2 separate regions of the Homo sapiens genome follow, and region 1 is linked to region 2. The links come from fine-mapping of genetic effects on gene expression. A gene starts in region 2. The other region holds a variant in brackets. All regions are shown on one strand. Distances are from middle to middle. Region 1 has its middle 11 kb from the start of HS3ST6. Region 2 holds the start of NUBP2 (NUBP iron-sulfur cluster assembly factor 2, cytosolic).

The links. PIP is the estimated chance that this variant, and not a neighbour inherited with it, causes the effect.
Region 1: its variant is fine-mapped to the expression of NUBP2 in whole blood (TOPMed, PIP above 0.99).

Annotation. Positions count from the first base shown.
Region 1 is chr16:1,928,464-1,931,357 of GRCh38, forward strand. No RefSeq gene overlaps it. Among named protein-coding and RNA genes, the nearest start is that of HS3ST6, 11 kb to the left of the region's middle. The variant C/G (reference allele first, on the strand shown) is at 1,391.
Region 2 is chr16:1,781,271-1,784,164 of GRCh38, forward strand. It overlaps NUBP2 (NUBP iron-sulfur cluster assembly factor 2, cytosolic), which reads left to right and starts at 1,690. Exons shown (of 7, transcript NM_012225.4): 1 at 1,690-1,766. The coding sequence starts at 1,751. It overlaps EME2 (essential meiotic structure-specific endonuclease subunit 2), which reads left to right. Exons shown (of 8, transcript NM_001257370.2): 8 at 1-432. SPSB3 (splA/ryanodine receptor domain and SOCS box containing 3) reads right to left here and starts at 1,301. Exons shown (of 7, transcript NM_080861.4): 1 at 1,232-1,301; 2 at 88-225. The coding sequence starts at 213. RefSeq lists silencers at 909-1,268, 1,769-1,978, 2,406-2,632 and an enhancer at 1,479-1,628.

The DNA of each region.
Region 1 (2,894 bases), 150 kb after region 2:
CCAGCATTCTGGGAAGCCGAGGTGGGGGATCCCTTGAGCCCAGGAATTCAAGATCAGCCTGGGCAACAAAGCCAGAGCACGTCTCTACAAAAAGTTTTTTTAAAAAATTAGCCAGGCACAGTGGCTCATGCCTGTAATCCCAGCACTTTGGGAGACCAAAGCGGGAGTGTCACTTGAGCCCAGGCGTTCCAGACTAGCCTGGACAACATGGCAAAACCCTGTCTCTACTAAAAATACAAAAATTAGCGGGGCGTAGTAGCACACCTGTAGTCCTAGCTATTCGGGAGGTTGACCTGGGAGGATCGCTTGAGTCCAGGAATTCAAGGCTGCAGTGATCCATGGTCATGCCACTGCACTCCAGCCCAGGCAACAGAGAAACCCCCTTCTCAAGAAGAAACAACCAGGCCCGGCGCGGTAGCTCATGCCTGTAATCCCAGCACTTTGGGAGGCCCTGCTGGGCGGATCATGAGGTCAGGAGATCGAGACCATCCTGGCTAACACAGTGAAACCCCGGCTCTACCAAAAATACAAAAAAATTAGCCGGGCGCAGTGGTGGGCGCCTGTAGTCCCAGCTACTCGGGAGGCTGAGGCACGAGAATGGCGTGAACCCGGGAGGCGGAGCTTGCAGTGAGCCGAGATCGCGCCACTGCACTCCAGCCTGGGCGGCAGTGCCAGACTCCGTCTCAAAAAAAAAAAAAAAAAGAAACAACCCCAAACTGTAATTATGATAAACAACACCGATCTCATTTATGGAGTAGGAAATCAAGCTGGAGAGGTGGGGTCAGCCTAGGTCAGAGCAGGCAAGGACTGTGGGAACCTCTGAGGGAGGGACCTGGTCTGGTTATTATTTTGCAGAGAGGACTCTGGTTGGGGGAAGGCAGCCAGGAGCTGCCTGGGTTGTAGCGGGGAGAGGTGGGCGGAGGAAAGAGGCCTGGGATGTGGAACCCTAGGATCTAGCCCTGAGGGCGGGCCAGGTCCGGGCAGCCTGGGTCCCACGCAGCTGCCCTGAAGAAGGGGCTGGGGGCGTCCTGCCTCCACCCGCGCCCCCAACCACGCCTGCCGTTCCCACCGGCCGCGCCACCCCCGCCCCCGCCCCTGGCTCTGTCCTCCGGTGACCCTGGAAGGGGCACCCGTGGCTGCGACTGCACTCCCTGTAGCGGTCACTTCGTGAAGCCCGGCAAACCCCCTGCAGCTGCCCCTGGCACCCTCAGACGACCAGAGGCCTCGGCCTGGGTCCCCAGCACCGGCCCAAGGGCGGGCGTGGCCGAGGCGGTTTCTCTGCGCGGACGCTCGCTGCCTCCGCCGCAACCCCCGCGGCCACCCGGGGAACTGCAGCGCCGTCAGGCCCCCCGCCGCGCCTGCGCACGCAGACCACCCGGCCTGGCAGCAC[C/G]GAGCGAGCGTGCCCCCTGCTGGTCAGTCCTGCGCACGGTCCCGCGCCCGGGCCCGGGAGGCCGCCTCGAGGGCCGGGGCTTGCACGTGGCCTCGGCGCCTTCGCCGACCCTACCGGACGCCCCCTCCTCCCACCTGCCGACCCGTCCGCGGGTAGGAGCCTCCCGGGAGCTGCCCACGGCCCCCACCCCCACCAGGGGCCACAGCCCCACCAGGGCCAGGCTCTGCGCGGCACCTGCCACTGAGAGAGCGGAAAGCGGTGGTTGAGCAAGGGTCTGAAGTATGGTCTGTTCCCCCATACGGGCCGCAGACGCTTCCTGGTGGCTGCTCTGAGCCAGGCCTGGGCCCCGGCGAGGGATCACGGTGTCTCAGACAGAGTTCCTTTTTATTCCCCATCCCTCGCCCGAGGTGACGGCCCAGCCGTGCCCAGGCCTGCCCGCTGCCCCTGAACCCAACCCTTGAGGGGCAAGGCCGTGCCCTGGGGAGGAAGGGGCTGCCCCCTCAGAGTCTGCTGTTCCTCAAGGAAGACGCGGGGGCAGCCGCAAGGATGGGGTATCACCCAGCAGGAGCGGGAGGGTAAGGTGACTGATTCCACACCAGACGCTCCATTGCTGGAAACACCACCCCCTCCTCCGGTGACCTGGCATACAGACCTTGCCCACAGCCATCCCTCCCTGGACTCTCAATGTGAGGGGGCCTTGGGGTCCTGCGGTTCACCCGTCTCCCCACTCAAGCAGTCTGCTTGCCGGCACCCCCCCCACCTCCTGAGCCCACTTGCCCCCTCCCACCCCCACCTCCCTACCACATCTTTTTTTTTTTTTTTTTCCTGAGACGGAGATTTGCTCTTGTTGCCCAGGCTGGAGTACAATGGTGTCATCTCGGCTCACCACAACCTCCCTGAGCCTCAGCCTCCCAGGCTGAGCCTGAGCCTCCCAGGTTCAAGCGATTCTCCTGCCTCAGCCTCCCGAGTAGCTGGTGTAGGGAAAAGAAAGAGAGATCAGACTGTTACTGTGTCTATGTAGAAAGGGAAGACATAAGAGACTCCATTTGAAAAAGACCTGTACTTTAAATAATTGCTTTGCTGAGATGTTGTTAATTTGTAGCTTTGCCCCAGCCACTTTGACCCAACCACTTTGATCCAATCTGGAGCTCACAAAAACATGTGCTGTATGAAATCAAGGTTTAAGGGATGTAGGGCTGTGCAGGACGTGCCTTGTTAACAAAATGCTTACAAGCAGTATACTTGGTAAAAGTCATTGCCATTCTCCAGTCTCAATAAACCAGGGGCACAATGCACTGTGGAAAGCTGCAGGGACCTCTGCCCTTGAAAGCAGGGTATTGTCCAAGGTTTCTCCCCATGTGATAGTCTGAAATATGGCCTCGTGGTATGAGAAAGACCTGACCGTCCCCGAGCCCGACACCTGTAAAGGGTCTGTGCTGAGGTGGATTAGTCAAAGAGGAAAGCCTCTTGTAGTTGAGATAGAGGAAGGCCACTGTCTCCTGCC
Region 2 (2,894 bases):
TTCCGTGTTCAGGTAATGTCTGCCTGCCTGCCTAGGGCATCTCCACACCTTAGGCCAGCCACGTCCGCCTCGCCCGCTGGAACCTACCTGCCCATCAGAGTCGTAGCCCCAGTTAGTGGAGCCTGCTAGAGCCACGGCCCGGGCATCTGCGTCTCGGCGGGCTGCACTCAGGACGAAGTGCCAGGCCCTGCTGTTCCGGGGGCGTCTGGCCATGGTGGAAAGAATCTAGAAGAAAACACAGGCTCTGGGCAAAGGAAGACTCACAGCACTCCCAGCCCTGAGCTTCCAGGCTGGGCCACGGACCCACTCAAAGTGGGGACTGCAGGGGCCGCACCGGTGCCCAGCCAGGGCTCCAGAACGCTTCAGGAGCCCGTACCTCACTCCAGGATCTGAGCAGCTCAATAAAACCCAGGTAGATCCTGTGAAACGCCACCCAGACACCCATGACTCCGGAATGCGAATCCCAGCCCCTCTCTCCGGTTCCACCTCACGAACCTGGCTGCCCCGCCCGCCTGTCCCGCAGGCATCTAAAACCTCCACTCGCTCCTCCTCTGTCGTCCGGTTTGACAAATGGCATCTCCGGCCTCCCAGTTCCTCATGCCAGAAGCACCGTGACCGCTCCCCGACACCTTCCCCTCACGCCCGGCCCGACCGCCGCACCCGCCTGCATCCTCCTCCCGCCACCGTCTCCTGGGCCGCGCAGCTCGCCTTCCCCTCCGCTCGCTACCGCCAGGGCTCCTCGTGAAACACAAATCTTAAAACCTGCTCAGCGCTGGCCGCTGTTATGGTATAAAATGCAAAAGGCTGCGAGGGCCAGGTCTGCGCTTCCCAGGCCACCTGCCTGGCACCTCCCTCGCCAGCTCCGGGGTTCCCGCCTAGCCTTCCAGGGCCGACCCCTGCGCCGGGCTCGCGGCTGGCAACGCCCGCTGGGCCCCGGGTGGGGTTCCAGGGAGGCCGGGGCGGATCGCGGCGCCCGGACCGCCGAACCCTGCCCAGCCCCAGGCGAGCGCGTGTGCAGCGGGAGCCGCCCTCCCCGGCGGCAGCCCGGCCTGGCTGTTCCCTCCCGCGGGCGCGCGGGTTCCGGAGTCGGCGGCACCGGGGAAGCCTCTCTCGGGCGCGGCCCTCCGGAGAGGAACAAAGGCGGCGCCCTGGCCGCGCTGCTACCGCCGCGCCCGCAAGGTCAGCGCGCCCGCCCAGAGCCCGAGACGTCGGCCCGTGCCCCGCCACTCACCTGCAGCCCCCGCTGCGCGCTCCGCCGGCCCGGCCCTGACCCACTTTCCGCCCCGGAGCGAGACGTAAACAATCCCCGCCCCCTGCGCCCATTGGCTCCGGCGGCGAGGGGCGGGCACACCTGTCTCGGAGCTTCGGGAGAGGGGGCGGGAGTCGGGTGACAAAGCTATTGCCGAGAGGTTTCAGGAACTGTCAGTCCTAATCCAACGTTCCTATTGGTCAGTTCCCAAGCGGTTGGAGACAAAGCTCGCGCGCACATTGGACCCGGGTGGGAGGTGGTACCGCAGGCCGCGTTGACCGGAAAGTAGGTCCGTGTCATCGTCTGCGCCGGAACCTGCGGGACCGGATCGAGAGCTCCTCCGGCAAGCTGATTGGCTGGGACAGCAGGATTAGGCCTGTCAAGAAGAGCCACGGGCGGGCACGCACTGCCCATTGGTTGGAAGGCCCTTCGCTCTAGCTGGGAGGCTGACGGCCCGCGGGCGTAAGCGGACTGCAGCCGCGAGCTCCTGGAGGCGGCGGGATGGAGGCGGCGGCCGGTGAGTGGCGGGCCAGGGTGCGGAGCCGCTCCAGGGCCTCGCTTGGGGCCCCGCCGCGTCCCTTCCCGGGGCGGCCTCGCTGCGTCGCGCGCCTCCGGTGCGACCATCACCGGCCGGCGTGGCTGGGCCGGGCCAGAGGCCGCGGCGCGGGCATTTTCTAAACAGGGTCGTTTCCCGCGTGCTCCTGCTTCGATGTGGAAGCTCCGTGATCTCGGAGGGCCTGAGTCGTGGAGTTGGGGGAGCTTTTAAAGTTAACTTTGTTGAGCACCGCGTTGTAGGCGGGCGCGGTGGCGCCTGTGGGCCCCGCTATCCTGGAGGTCGCGGTTGCAACTGCACCGCAGCCCGGGCAAGAGCGAGACCCTGTCTCTAAATAAATCACACGCGCGCAGTCATGAAAGTAAGACGGACGCCAGAATCTCACATGCTTTTAAGTTCTTTGTGGAAGTGGCGCTCTCAGTGTTCAGAAAAGTGTAAGTTGCGCGGGACAGAATTCACACCAGTGGGGACGATCCGTTCGCCAGATCAGCGCCGTGGGCCCTCCTGAGTAGTGGGAGCCGCATTTATCTTCTAAGAGACCTCGAGTCCGATACCAAAAGGAAAACATTCCTCGGACAGCAAGGTCTTGCAGCACAACTCTGACAGATTAGAAACCGAGTGCTGGAGTCTTTTGTTTTTGAGACGGAGTCTCGTTCTGTCGCCCAGGCTGGAGTGCAGTGGCGCGGTCTCGGCTCACTGCCAGCTCCGCCTCCCGGGTTCACGCCATTCTCCTGCCGCAGCCTCCCGAGTAGCTGTGACTACAGGCGCCCGCCACCACGCCCGGCTAATTTTTTGTATTTTTAGTAGAGACGGGGTTTCACCGTGTTAGCCAGGATGGTCTCGATCTCCTGACCTCGTGATCCGCCCGTCTCAGCCTCCCAAAGTGCTGGGATTACAGGCGTGAGCCACGGCGCCTGGCCCAGTGCTGGAGTCTTATTCCAGAGGAGAAGCCTGGAAAAGCCTGTCCTTATTATCAGGACGGATTTACTACAAAGTAAGGATATTACTGAGATTGATAGAAGCTTTTTTTTTTTTTTGAGACAGGGTCTTAACTGTCGCCAAGGCTGAAGTGCAGTGGCACGATCATAACTC